Homo sapiens: one gene and its partners. The protein of the gene in region 1 purifies or fractionates together with the protein of each later gene. This does not show direct contact. Each region holds a gene or a part of one and is shown on either strand. Other genes may lie near its edges.

What was found. The genes of interacting proteins can lie anywhere in the genome.
Region 2: the proteins of CDK8 (region 1) and MTBP purify together in Homo sapiens (affinity purification with western blotting; 2 studies listed by BioGRID and IntAct, with this or other methods). This does not show direct contact.
Region 3: the proteins of CDK8 (region 1) and MED12L purify together in Homo sapiens (affinity purification with mass spectrometry; 5 studies listed by BioGRID and IntAct, with this or other methods). This does not show direct contact.
Region 4: the proteins of CDK8 (region 1) and PCF11 purify together in Homo sapiens (affinity purification with mass spectrometry; one large-scale study listed by BioGRID and IntAct). This does not show direct contact.

What each region holds. Positions count from the first base shown.
Region 1 is NC_000013.11:26,260,629-26,264,128, reverse strand, and holds part of CDK8 (cyclin-dependent kinase 8), read right to left. Parts: intron 1-3,500.
Region 2 is NC_000008.11:120,451,919-120,455,418, reverse strand, and holds part of MTBP (mdm2-binding protein), read right to left. Parts: intron 1,573-3,500; coding exon 1,514-1,572; intron 1-1,513. UniProt on the Homo sapiens protein: Inhibits cell migration in vitro and suppresses the invasive behavior of tumor cells. May play a role in MDM2-dependent p53/TP53 homeostasis in unstressed cells. Inhibits autoubiquitination of MDM2, thereby enhancing MDM2 stability.
Region 3 is NC_000003.12:151,088,664-151,092,163, reverse strand, and holds part of MED12L (mediator of RNA polymerase II transcription subunit 12-like protein), read right to left. Parts: intron 1-3,500. UniProt on the Homo sapiens protein: May be a component of the Mediator complex, a coactivator involved in the regulated transcription of nearly all RNA polymerase II-dependent genes.
Region 4 is NC_000011.10:83,167,131-83,170,630, reverse strand, and holds part of PCF11 (pre-mRNA cleavage complex 2 protein Pcf11), read right to left. Parts: coding exon 3,323-3,500; intron 3,217-3,322; coding exon 2,733-3,216; intron 2,204-2,732; coding exon 636-2,203; intron 1-635. UniProt on the Homo sapiens protein: Component of pre-mRNA cleavage complex II, which promotes transcription termination by RNA polymerase II.

The sequences.
Region 1 (3,500 bases):
GGAAATTAGGTATAAACTTAATTTTTGCAAAGAAAGTCACATAATAAAACATTAGGAGACTCATTTACTTAAAGGGAGTCTTGGCTGGGAGCGGTGGCTCACGCCAGTAATCCCAGCACTTTGGGGGGCCCAGGTGGGCGGATCACGAGGTCAGGAGATCAAGACCATCCTGGCTAACACGATGAAACCCCGTCTCTACTAAAAGTACAAAAAAATTAGCCGGGCGTAGTGGCGGGCGCCTGTAGTCCCAGCTACTCGGGAGGCTGAGGCAGGAGAATGGCGTGAACCCAGGAGACGGAGCTAGCAGTGAGCCGAGATCGTGCCACTGCACTCCAGGCTGGGTGACATAGCGAGACTCCGTCTCGAAAAAAAAAAAAAAGGGAGTCTTTTAGCCGGGCGCGGTGGCTCACGCCTGTAATCCCAGCACTTTGGGAGGCCGAGGCAGGCGGATCCCTAAGGTCAGAAGTTTGTGGCCAGCCTGACCAACATGGTGAAACCCCATCTCTACTAAAAATACAAAATCTGCCAGGCTGGTGGCACATGCCTGTAATCTCAGCTACTCGGCAGGCTGAGGCAGGAGAATCTCTTGAACCAAGGAGGCGGAGGTTACAGTGAGCCAAGATCGTGCCATCGCACCCTAGCGTGGGCAACAAGAGCAAAACTCTGGCTCAAAAAAAAAGGTAATACCTACTCCCGGCCGGGCGCGGTGGCTCACGCCTGTAATCCCAGCACTTGGGAGGCTGAGGCAGGCGGATCACGAGGCCAGGAGATCGAGACCATCTTGGCTAACACGGTGAAACCCTGTCTCTACTAAAAATATAAAAAACTAGCCGGGTGTGGTGGCGGGCGCCTGTAGTCCCAGCTACTCGGGAGGCTGAGGCAGGAGAATGGCGTGAACCCGGGAAGCGGAGCTAGCAGTGAGCGGAGATCGCGCCATTGCACTCCAGCCTGGGCAACAGAGCGAGACTCCGTCTCAAAAAAAAAACCGAAAAACAAAAAAAACCTACTCCTTCTTTCCTCAAAAATATGACTTGTTTAATATAAACTACATTAGCACGACTTGACAAGTTTTCTTTTTATTCAATCCCTTTAGTCCTCTAAACAACCTATAGATTCAAATGTCTAGAAACACCCAGAGTAGGCCCTTCATCATGATGTAAAAATTCCTCTCTGTAGGATGATTATTTGTTAGAATTCATGGATTACAATAAAGTTATAGACTTTAAAGAACTTGTCTAGTGAGATGAGTAACTGAGTTACCTTGAATAGAAGTTAGTCTAAATAATTTTTTACTCATGTAACAAAAGGTAAATTTCAAATAAAACGATCATGCTATACAGACCAGTGATTTTAGGCAAAATTAAATGCCAACTGTGATTCAGAAACTAATTACGTTTTCCTTAATTTTAGAAATACAGATTTGATCCACATTTTAAAGGGTTCATTTTCAAAGTATATTTCAAAAAAATATTATTTCTAGTGGCTCAATTTTCAAATACCTTGGCCTTCCATTTCGATTCAGCCAACTACCGAGCTTGCTCTTGCCTTTGGATTGATTTTGGTATTGTTCAGTGCCATTCTGGGTAAAAACATAGGAAACCCATCAAATTTTGCTTCTCCTGGTATTTTCACAGGTATTACTTTTCTACTCTTCCCGTAATATGCCTCAAGCTTTTAATGTTAGCAAGTTTAGAAAAAAGATTTTCAAACATGAATTTCAGATACACACACACACACATACACAAAAGTACAAAATACCTGTCAAAATTTGGCAATATGCCAAGAGCTGGGGAGAACACAATCATTGCCCTAAAGGAAATCTATAATTTTAACCCATAAACATTCACCTGAAAGACCCAAAGGACACATAAGCATTAACCACATATACACTGAAGTAGTTACATAATATATCAGTGAATGACTATGTTTTGCAGGGTGACGGGTAAAGTGGGACTTATTGGAGTTGTATGTTAAGATACGTAGTTAGGATTTTTTTCTGAGGCTGTCAGTACATTTCAACTGAGAAAAAAGCATTTCCAGCACAAGGTGCTGCCTGAGACAAAAAAAATTCCAGCACAAGGTGCTGCCTGAGGAAAAGGTCAGAGTGGTCTAAGTTGATGGAGGAGAGCAGCTGTATGAATCTCTGTTTCAGAATTACTGCAATAGATTATGGTGTGAGCACTGTCCTGGAATAAAATAGACTAGTCAGGTCTTGTACACAAAGAACAAAGAACTTGGTCCTAAACCAAAGTCAATGTAAAGTCACTCAAAATTGGTTCTCAGCTGCTTTGGATATGATCCAGAAATTCCACTCCCAGGTATATACTGAAAACATACATCCACCTAACAAGTCACACATAATTGCTTATCGAAGCATTATTCATTTTAGCCAAAAAGTGGAAACAACCCAAACGCCCAATTGATGAATATATAAACAAAATGTGGTATATCTATACAATGCAATATGATCCAGCCATAGAAAGGTATGAAGTACTGATACATGTACCACATGGATGAACCTTGAAAACATTACATTAAATAAAGAAACACAAACACAAAAGGCCACATGTTGAATTAGTCCATTTATATGAAATGTCCAGAACAGGCAAATCCACTGAGACAGAAAGTAGATTAGTGCTTGTCAACGGCTGGGGAGAGAGGGGAATGGGACTGACTGCTTAATGGGTTTCTTTTTGGGGTCATGAAAATGTCCTAGGATTAGACAGTGATGGTGGTTGCACAGCCTCGTCGATCTACTAAAAAACACTATACTGATCACATACTTTTAAAAGGGTGAATTTTATGGTATGTGACTTATATCTCAATTTTTAAAAAGGAGCTCTCAGCATTTTTTCTGCTACAATACATCTGAAGAACATAACTCCATCAGTAAAGGCAGCTTACTACAGCAAGGACTGGTTTTGGGACTTTGACAATAACTATATTAAAGAATATTCAGAATCATGATACCAACAGTCTTTAAGTACTAAGGTCAAAACAACAGGTAAAAGCCACCTTTTAGTGACATCAAGAGCTGCCTTGAGGTGATAAAAGATTGCTAAAGAGAAAAGATAATTTCTAAGTAACATGACCAAGGCTACGTAATCTGGTGTGAAGGAAAAAATTCACAAAGTGTTCTGAAGGAGGAAAGGATAGTAGGAGTTTTATTTTCTAGCAGCAGCTAAGAACAGAAAAAGAGTCAAGAGACAATGAGGATTGGATTCAATAGTGAAAGGCACTACAAGAAAGATTAACACCAGTCACAGGGAATCAAATGTATTTATCAACACTGATTTGCCATACATAGTTCCCATCTAACAAATGAATCACATTTCAAATGTTTATAAATCAGAATTAGAACACATTTGCCCAGAGAATTAATTGTCAAAGTAGTTACGTTTGCAAATGGCCTATAATAATTATAATTTTTCATTATTTCTGTTTTCCTAGCTGAAATTCAGCATGCCAGAAGCCCTGTCCCTACCTTTCATCTTTCCACA
Region 2 (3,500 bases), on another chromosome or scaffold:
GCATTTTTGTAATTTTTAAAAAGTTAGATCTGAAATGTCTCAAAATAGTACCCTGAAGAACTGAATTTTATGTTTATTTAGAAAAATTAGTTTTATATTTATTTAGAAGACAAAGGAAGCTTTTAGTTTTAATTTCTGAAATTCTCCAAAACAATATACGCCCTTAGGAATTCAAACTTTTTAAATGTTCATCATTTATTGAAAGCCATGTTATCTTGAAATAGCTAGCATATACTAGAAAACAATAAACTATATCATAATTACTTGCCAATTCTGCAGCAGTGGTTAATTACACACATCACTCTCATGATCATCAATGCTATTGTACTCAACAGAGAAAAAAAAAACCTGTGCAATTTCATTATATTTTTCTAAACATAATTTTGTTATCCAAAAGAGAATGAATAAGTGCAAAACTGTAATGTTCAAATAAATGATGTCTCTTTTATAAAGGACAATAAAACACTCTGAAAACCAATTATACTGACATCATCATTGGATCCTGAGAAAAAATAACTTCACAAAACTTTAAATTTTATAAAATTATACATTTCCTGAAGGACTACAAAAATCAAAATGAAACAAACTGGAGATAAATTTGATAATGAAAGTATTCTAATTTGCCAAAACAACTATGTAATATTTCAGTGCATACTTTGACCTCAACACATTTCATTTTAAAAGTTGATACGTTTGTCAACTCATTCAGTTATTTTTCTATGTGGGGCTTTTTGTACTAATATATGATCTCCTTGAATATAGAGATCTGGCTGACTATAAGCTAAAAGCTCCTTTATGTTAATCACAGATGCTTTATTCATCATGGTACACTTGGCTCCTAGTACAAATATTTACTTACTAATGACCTTCAATAAAGCATTCAGAAAAGAATACTCTTCAAAGTATTTGCGGATACCAACTGTACCAAATATTAGATGACAGCTACTTGATTAACACAAAGGAAAAAAGAAAAAAACCAGTTTTAGGAATATTATGATACAGTATGTCACAGGTATTCTTTCCACTATGGGGAAAAAAATAGGTTCTATAAAAAAATGCTGAGGAAACACTTTCTTTTATGGTATGACATTCCATTTGACAATGCATATAGTAACTTCACCATAAAAGAATGTTATCCAAATCATCAAGGCTAAATAATCTCCTTTTTAAAGAGCTGTTTATAGGATTAGTCTTCTATAGAACATACTCTGAAAAGCAACAGTCTGTAGCAGGAAGATTCTTCTTCAGCAATAACTAAAGAAACAGAGATAGTTATTTAATGTCCAAAGTTCTAATTTTTGCCTAACTAAATGAAAACAATGAAAAGAACTGCTACATCTCGGTAATGTACTCCCATGGATACATTCTGTATCAACTTCAATTAAAAATTGTTTTGCATTTTTTAATTTAAAGATTAGAGTGAGAACACTAACATAAAGAACAAATTTATCATTTATTCATAAAGTGTAATAAGATAAGATACAAATTATTGAAAGCAGTCATAAAATATTACCAGGAGCAGGAAGCTTGTCTGACAGCTGATGCAAATTTTCTGCAGCTTCTTCATAGAGACTAAAATAAAAGGGTAAGTTAGGGAAAGAAAACCCCATAAATATATTTATATATAATCATAATAGGTAATATTAACTAAAAAGATTGTTGTACAGACACTGTTAAACATGTTAGATGTATAATCTCATTTGATCTTTATGACAATTCCAGGAGGTACTACTATAATACTATTATCTCAACTGTAAATAACTTCCCTAAAGTTACATAATTAGTATGTATGGAAGCTAGGATTCAAACCCTGAGTACAAGTTCTTACCCACACCCCAAAAACAATCAAAAAAAAGGAAATAAAACTCCCTAAATTATAACTAGCATATTAAATATAAATCATAACTAACAGACCAAACTTTTTTTGGAACCTTTTATTTATTTATTTATTTTTGGTTTTTGGGTTTCTTTTGAGACAGGGTCTGACTCTGTCACGCAGGCTGGAGTGCAGTGGCATGATCACAGCTCACTGCAGCCTCAATCCCCCAGGTTCAGGAGGTCCTCCCACCTCAGCCTCCTGCATAGCTGGGATAGCTGGGACTACAAGCACACACCACCATGCCTGGCTAATGTAGAGACGGGGTTCTGCCATGTTGCCCAAGCTGGTCTCAAACTCCTGGGCTCAGGTTATCCGTCTGCCTCAGCCTCCCAAAGTGCTGGCATTACAGGCATGAGCCACTGCACCCAGCCATTTTTCTGAATCTTAAAAGTAAGAAAATGCTAAGTGTTTAATAAAAAAGGACATGATTTTTCTCTGAATGGTATTTAACAGTCTTGACTAAAGAATATGACGCCCTCTTCAGATTCTTCAAAACTTATTAGTTTTATCTATATGATGCAATTTTTTTCTCAAAAAAGTTTATTATATAGCATAAAGGTACTTAAATCCTTTACTATAAACCCACCGTCTTAGAAACTTAAGGCATCTTATGTAAACTCTAGTTTTCAGGCTCCCCCTTGTGGAAATAATTATTAGGTCACTTATCAGAAACTTTTATACTTGCCTTTTCTTTTTTTTTTTTTTTTTTTGAGACGGAGTGTTGCTCTGTCGCTCAGGCTGGAGTACAGTGGCAGAATCTCAGCTCACTGCAACCTCCGCCTCCCGGGTTCAAGCAATTCTCCAGCCTCAGGCTCCCGAGTAGCTGAGATTACAGACACCTGCCACCACGCCCGGCTAATTTTTTCTATTTTCAGTAGAAAAGGGGTTTCACCATGTTAGCCAGGCTGGTCTTGAACTCCTGACCTTGTGACCCACCCGCCTCGGCCTCCCAAAGTGCTGGGATTACAGGCGTGAGCCACTGTGCCTGGCTATACTTGTCTTTAACAGTGGTAGGAAAACATATGGGATGATAAGAGTTTTTAAGGGTAAATGAAAGCACCTAAGAAATTATCTAAAAGTACTTCAATACTTTATGGATGAGAAAACAAACGACCAGAGAAGTTACGTGACTGGCCTAAGATTGTGTAAATAAAGTCTACCTCTACTAATCCCTGGTTCAATGATATTTCTCTGGTTTGGAAAGGTCTCCTTTTATTAATCAGTACAAACAAATATGATCTGGAAAAAGGAAAATGAAAATTTTTAAGTCTACAGCTACTTACAGATATAATATGTGAATACTAAAATAAGAGCAGTTTTGTCATGAAATGTTATGAAAGACTAAAATAAAAGGTATTAACTATAAGAGGTGGGATATTTCATCAAGAGAAAAATTATTATCACAACTTATGTCACCTGGATCAACTTACATATTGTACCACAATTGAAAAAAACCTAAAAGTGAACTCAATCATGTACATATAATCCTCACAAACTCTATGGATTTTAAAAGGTACCTGAAATGCTGCAAATACACATAAATTAAAGAAGTCACATATTTCAGCCTCAAATAGCAAAATGAAAATGATACTTTGGTATGAATGCTAGCTATTAACATTAA
Region 3 (3,500 bases), on another chromosome or scaffold:
CCTATACACAAAGAAGCTAGGCCTGTTGGAAGAAGAGAGAGGCAGCCTGTGGTCCCACCACACAGCAAGTTGGAAGGGGTGACTCAAAGCCCAGATCTTGAAAGGCAGGATCTTGTGGCTGTTATGGTTAAGTACAACAGGAGACCCCCAGCATCCTTTAATAAGGGATCAGCTAATAGTGGCTGACCTGTGTTGAGTGCTGCCTGTGTGACAGGCACGATTCTACACACTTTGCATACATTAGCTCATTTTCTCTTCCCAGCAACTCTATGAAGTTGGAAGAAATACAAACCTCATTCCATGGTTGAGGAAGCTGAGTCAAACAGGCAGTAAACAGAGTAGCCAGAACTCAAAGCCAGGCTGTTTGGCTGCAGGCAATGACTGCAGAGGTGAACAAGGGCCAGACTGGTAGGGCCTTGAAGGCCAAGGTAAAGGGTTTGCATTTTATTTCAAGTGTAATGGAAAAAGCCACTGGAGGGGGACTGAGACTTCCTGGTCCATTCCCTTAGATCTGAACTAAGAGAGGGCACAAATTCTGGGACAAGAACACCAAATCTTGGCTGGGTTGGCTGTTAAACCAAACTACTGCAACTTCAGCCATACATAGAAGTCTAATCCAGCCCTGCTCGTATCAAGCAGAATGCTCTAGCCCCTGCAGAACTGGATGTCTTCCCTTTAGGTGAGGGTTCTCGAAGTGGGGCCCTAGACCAGCACCATCAGATTACCTGGGATCTTGTCACCAGTGCAATTTCTGAGGCCTGACCTCAGACCTACTGAATCTTAGAGACCCAGCAATCTGTTTCAACCAGCCTTCAGGGTAATCTGAATGTCCTCTGAAGTTGAAGAACCACCACTCTGGGATATCCGCATGCAGACACCACCATCACCACCAGCTCTCCTAAGTCATGCTGTGTATATCTTCGGGCAGCCCCTGCACTGCACACCAGGCCATTATTCCCGTAGGTCCCTGCTGGTGGGGCTCTACAGCTCCTGATTCCCGGAAATCTCATTACTGCCCCAACCCATTTTTCTAACAAATTTGATTTTCTGCACATATTTACTCTTCAAATGTTTCGGCCTCTTTTTCTGTTGTTTTTTGTTGTTGTTGTTTTGTTTTGTTTTTGAGATGCAGTCTTGCTCTGTCCCCCAGGCTGGAGTGCAATGGCACAATCTCGGCTCACTGCAACCTCCGCCTCCTGGGTTCAAGAGATTCTCCTGCCTCAGCCTCCCAAGTAGCTGGGATTACAGGCGCCTACCACCATGCCCAGCTAATTTTTGTATTTTTTAGTAGAGACGGGGTTTCACCATGTTGTTAAGGCTGGTCTCGAACTCCTGACCTCAGGTGATCCACCCGCCTCGGCCTCCCAAAGTGATGGGATTACAGGCATGAGCCACCACGCCTGGCCCTGTTTCAGTCTCTTTTGTCCCAGAGTAAACCTCCTCTTCCTTCCTACTTCTGGAGCTTAATTTTACTTTCAGGCTTAACCTAGGCTCCAAAGCAGATAGATGCAAAGGATACTTTCAGCTTTAACCTTGACTTTCCCCAACAGCCCTCAGTCACCGGATTTCCCTTTTTAATTTATTCATCCCAAGTTTATTCATGTTCCAATAAATATTTGTGCCCTCAGCCTTCTAGGAACTAATTGTGCAGGTGCCAGGTACTTCTGCCATACCAAAACAGACCTCATCCATGCCCTCATGAAACTGACCTATTAGGGGGAGATGGCAAGATGCAAATAAGTATATAATTGTAAATGATATATCAGAAAAGCCTGAGACTTGAATGATGAAGGGGCAGGCATGACAGTAGTTCATGACAGCAAACATATAGGGGCTGAATCTATGACAGATTCTGTTCTAAGTGCTTTTTACATATACTATCTAGGTAATCTTCCAACAGCCCTATGAGTTAAGTAGTATTATCACTCTCACTCTATATGGAAGGAAAATGAAGTATAGGGAGAATAAGGGGCACATAAACAGGACAGCCAGGGTCCCAACCCAAGCAGACTGGCACCAGAGCCTACCTTTCTAACCACAGGCTAAGGTGAGAAGAGCTGAGTGGAATGCTAAGTGGGAGGGGGTGGCTAGACAGGTGTCCAGGCAGAAAGACCAGAACAGAATATGCAGGAGCCCTGGGGAAGAGAAGTCACCCTGAAGCCAGAAGGGAGACCAAGCATACTGGTGAAACTGGAGAGCATCTGGTGGATTGGAAATATATTTTGGAACTGAACAGGATGTGCGCATGGATGTAGAGACGCTGATGGATGAATGGGGTATAAGCAAGGAGGAGGTCTCAAGGATGACTGCCAGTTTTCTGATTCCCTGCTTTAAAGGCTTGAGCACAGTCTGTTTGTAGGAAGCAAAGTATTATAACACAATATATAATGAAGTCCTACAGGATGCTGATGCACAGCAAGCTCTCAAAAAAATATAACCAATCCATCAGGCAGGTTAAAGCTTCCATATTCTCCCCCCCGCCCCACCCCCATACTTCTCCACATGGGTCTTCGTTCATGGGTTCCACCCTACCTTCTGGGAGCCCTTTTCTGAAATATATTACCACTGGTTAACAACAACAATAAAAATTACATTTATGGTGACAAGAATAACTTCTACCAGGAGGAGGGCTTTTCTCACACAAATGTTGGTTTGAAATTTTTTCTGAAGTGCACAAACTAATTTACAAATGAGAGGCTATGCAACTTGCCCAAGGCCACACAATTGCAAAAAAAAAAAAAAAGCTAAATCCAGGTTGGCCCAACTTGGAAGCCCACACTTCCTCCATTAAATCAGCATTTTCCACCACAGCTATCTCTAATGGAACACAACTGTTGTTTTCGATACACAGATGAACTTTTAAAGTGTTAATAGTAATGGTCTCATTTTATTATGTATAATCATATACGTGTGTGCATGTAATATCAAATAGATTAAAAATAGTATGTAAACATGATTTGATATAAATTTTATATATACATATATTTCAATAAATCCATGACTCCACGTGTAGTACTGCCCAGGAAACACAAAGTTTCTTAAAAAATTAGTTTAAAGAAAACTTCAGAATAAAAGTACAGGTGGTACAGGGGTAGGGTAGAAATCTTGAGGGAGGTAGGACATAAATAACTAAAGCTTAGGAAACTCTACTCACCAACCACCCAAGAACAGCCAAGCACCTGTTCCATATTGTACCCAAATTTGGCTACAGCCACACATAACTCTGTCTGCTTGGGAGAGTTAAAACATTGGCTGCCTTGGGGGAAAGGGGATAACATCAGAAGATAATTTAGCATAAATCATCCTCAAAGCAGTATTAGTTTTGACATAAATACTGGTTTGGTGGTACAACTCCTCTGCTTATTCACCTATACACCTTGGTTAAACGAGTCAAGCTTTCCCAGGCCTGTTTCACTTAGTCAAAAGGAAGTTATAGAAAGTAGTCCCTAAGGTCGCTTCCAGTTTTAGAACTCCATAAAATGTTGTGAGACCCTGAAATC
Region 4 (3,500 bases), on another chromosome or scaffold:
TTTTAAAATGTATACAGAACAAGTGTGAAAGAATACCAACAGGTAACAGTGCATGTTTCGTAACCAGAGTGTATTTGGAAGGCTATTCGCTATGTTGTCATTAATATCAAACAATTGTGTTTAACTGAAGTGACTGGAAAGGTGGTAAAAAGTAGGAAAAAAGGACCAAAAAAAAAGAATTGTAGACTGTGAAAGCAGGGACACAATTTGATCTTCTTATTTAACTCAGGTTAAGGAAATTCTTGGTCAAAGAACAGTTCAATCAATTCTATGGCTACCTTAAAGCACGTCAGGGCTCAACAGTTCTGCAATGTAGAGGTCTATGACACACAATTGTATAATATCTCAAAAGCTTTAAAGCAAAAAAAAAGGAAAAAGAAAAAACAGAGCTGGAGGTGGGGGTTTGATTGAGATATTTCCCTAGATCCTGAAAGAGCTAAAATCAATTTTGGATTTAAGTTGCAAATTTCATCCCCAAAAGATGCTCATCCCACTTCCTTAGCATGTGGCTTTAGAGTACATTAAAAACTTCTTTCCAATCTACACAATAAACTATGTCCTGAAAACCCTCCTAGAAACATTAAAAAATGGTTAACTTATCTGCATACAACGCAATTTTAGAATAACAGACTTACCTGTTGAGATGCCTGAATATTTCCTACTGTCATTGGAGCAGGTATATTGCCAAAGTTTCCAAATTGAGAACTCTGAAGATTTTTTTCATCAAAATAGTGTCCAGAAGCTCTGTTAAGTGGATTAGAGAAACTCTGGTTTCCAGGGCCATGTGGTCCATTAAAATTTGGTCCTTGAGGTGAATCAAATATTTGTTCATGTCTTTGGAACTGTAGTCCTTGGGATGGGGCATTAAAAGCATTGCCAGGTGGATCATTATATGGACCAGTCTGATTGAAAGATACTGATTCAAGCCTTTGTGAAGGATGATTGTCAAATCTTGTGCCTTGAAGACCAAGAGGAATATCAAACCTTGATGCTTGCTGATGTTGTGGACCATCAAATCTTTGAGGTACACCGTCAAATCTGGGTTGAACCTGCTGTCCAGGTGGTCCATCAAACCTCTGAGGGCCTGGCTGACCAGGAGTCCTTTCAAATCTAGGACCTGGCTGACCATGTAATCCATCAAATCTTGGCAAGAGTGACGGCTGACCTGGCTGCCCATCAAACCTTAAAGCATGACAACCTTCAAATCTTGGACCACCTTGACCCAGAGGCCCTTCAATTCTCAGGCCACCTCCTGGTACAGAAGGACCCTCAAACCTCATTCCACCTCCTTGTTGGACTAAAGGGCCTTCAAACCTGATACCAACCCCTGGCTGACCATGTGGACCCTCAAACCTAAGGTTCCCACCAAGTTGATTATGTTGTCCCTCAAATCTCAGACCAGCTACTGACTGACCATGGGGGCCCTCAAACCTCATTCCAACCCCTTGCTGTAGCAAAGGGCCCTCAAATCTGATTCCACCTCCTGGCTGACCATGAGGTCCATCAAACCTAATCGCAGCCCCTGATGGACCATGACCCCCCTCAAATCTAAGTCCACCTACAGGCTGACCTCGGGGATTATCAAATCTAAGTCCACCCACAGGCTGACCATGAGGTCCCTCAAACCTTAGACCACCCACAGGTTGACCACGATGTCCCTCAAACCTCAGACCACCCACAGGCTGGCCTCCTGGTCCCTCAAATCTCAAACCACCTGGAGATCCCTCAAACCTCAGACCAGGGGAACCTTCAAACCGAAAACCACCTCCTCCTGCTTGACCAATTGGGCCCTCAAACCGCAGAGGTGTCCCCACTGGTCCTGGAGGACCTTCAAATCTCAAAGGACACCCACCTCCTAGCTGACCTTGTGGCCCCTCAAATCTCAAAGGGCCTCCTCCCCCCATTTGTCCTGGTGACCCATCAAACCGAAGAGAAGCTGGTGTGGGAGGTCCATCAATTCGAGGGCTTAATTTATTGGGTCCTTCAAAAATCATCTTCGTTGGGCCATCTCTTGCTACTGATGGCCTACTAGGTCCATCAAATAACGGTCTGTCTTCAGCTAAAGCTGTAAGTCGCTGATTTGTATCCAGGCCGGCGAATCTTGATGCTGGACTATCTACAAATGGTTTATCTGAATCTTCATATCGAGGTCGCTTAAGTGGAAAACGATCATTGAATGGAGATCTCTGCTCTTCTCGCACACCTTTTAAAAAGGAAAAAAATTATTTTCACTAAAGTTATCTTAAAATCTTCTATTTTCGTATGAATGTTTATCCAAATATATAACTATCTCACTACATTAGAGGGGCAGGAGAGACCGACAGCGTAAAGCAGCAGATAAGAGGATGCCCTCTAGAGTCAGACACACCTGAGTAACAAAAAAATTACCATCCTATCAACATACTAATTATTTCATTTTGAGAGCAAGTTATTTAACCTCTCTTTTATTTCCTATCTGTAAAATAGGGAGAATATACACTTCATTGTATTGTTGTGAGGATTAAATCAAATTACATATAAAAAATACCTAATGAAGTACCTGACACACAACTGGCCTTAGAAATATTAGCTCCCTTCCCTTCCCTTTCCTTAAAGGGAAAAAACATAACAAAATAAATGGGAAAAAAAATGGTAATCTGAACAGTCACAAAAATCCATCCCCACTTAGCTTGTTCATTTTCCCTTCACTGCTGTGTGATTCAATAGGCATAATCTGATTTAACTTTTTCTACCTTTAGCAGAGACTTGCTCGTCATGTCTTCTCCGGCCCTCATGGGGTGAAAGATTCTCAGCATAAGTACGACTCCCAGATATAGGAGAAAGACGTCTTGCTCTTTCACTAAATTGTTCTTTTCTGTCAAACTGTGCTCCACTATTCCTACTTGCATGTTTACTTTTGGATGGCTCACATTCTATTCCAGACAACAAGGCATCAGTCAAAGGGTAGTCAAAAATATCAGGATCTAAGAGATCAAGTCTTGGAAATGAATGCTGAACCTGTGTCCTTTTCAGTTTTGCTTTATGTTCATAGTAGGTTAATTCAGCATCAGATAAGAGAGGTTTCTTTTTTAATCCACCTTTATTTTCTTCTGTAGGACTATCCCGTACATTGCATCTATGTTTACCTTCTTGATACTGAAATAGCTGTCGAATTTGATGCACAACAACAAGGAAGTCATCCTGTGTAATTTCACCAGATGCTAAACGTTCACTCGTCTGTATAGGGGTGATAAAAGGAAATAAAATATTTTAAATATAAAAAAATACCAAAAAAATAGACGATAGATAATGATGACTACATGGGATTAATCATAGTAACTACCTTTTGAAGTAATTCTCTTTTGCTTGCAAGAGTTAACTCTTTAGGAATCTGAAGATTGGCATCTACACTTAATCGATGCTGTTGCTGCTTTGGGGCTCGAGGTGATAAAATTCCTTTAGTGCTTGACCAGCTCTCCCTATGCCTCAGATGAGGAGGTTTACTATGTTCATCAACCTGT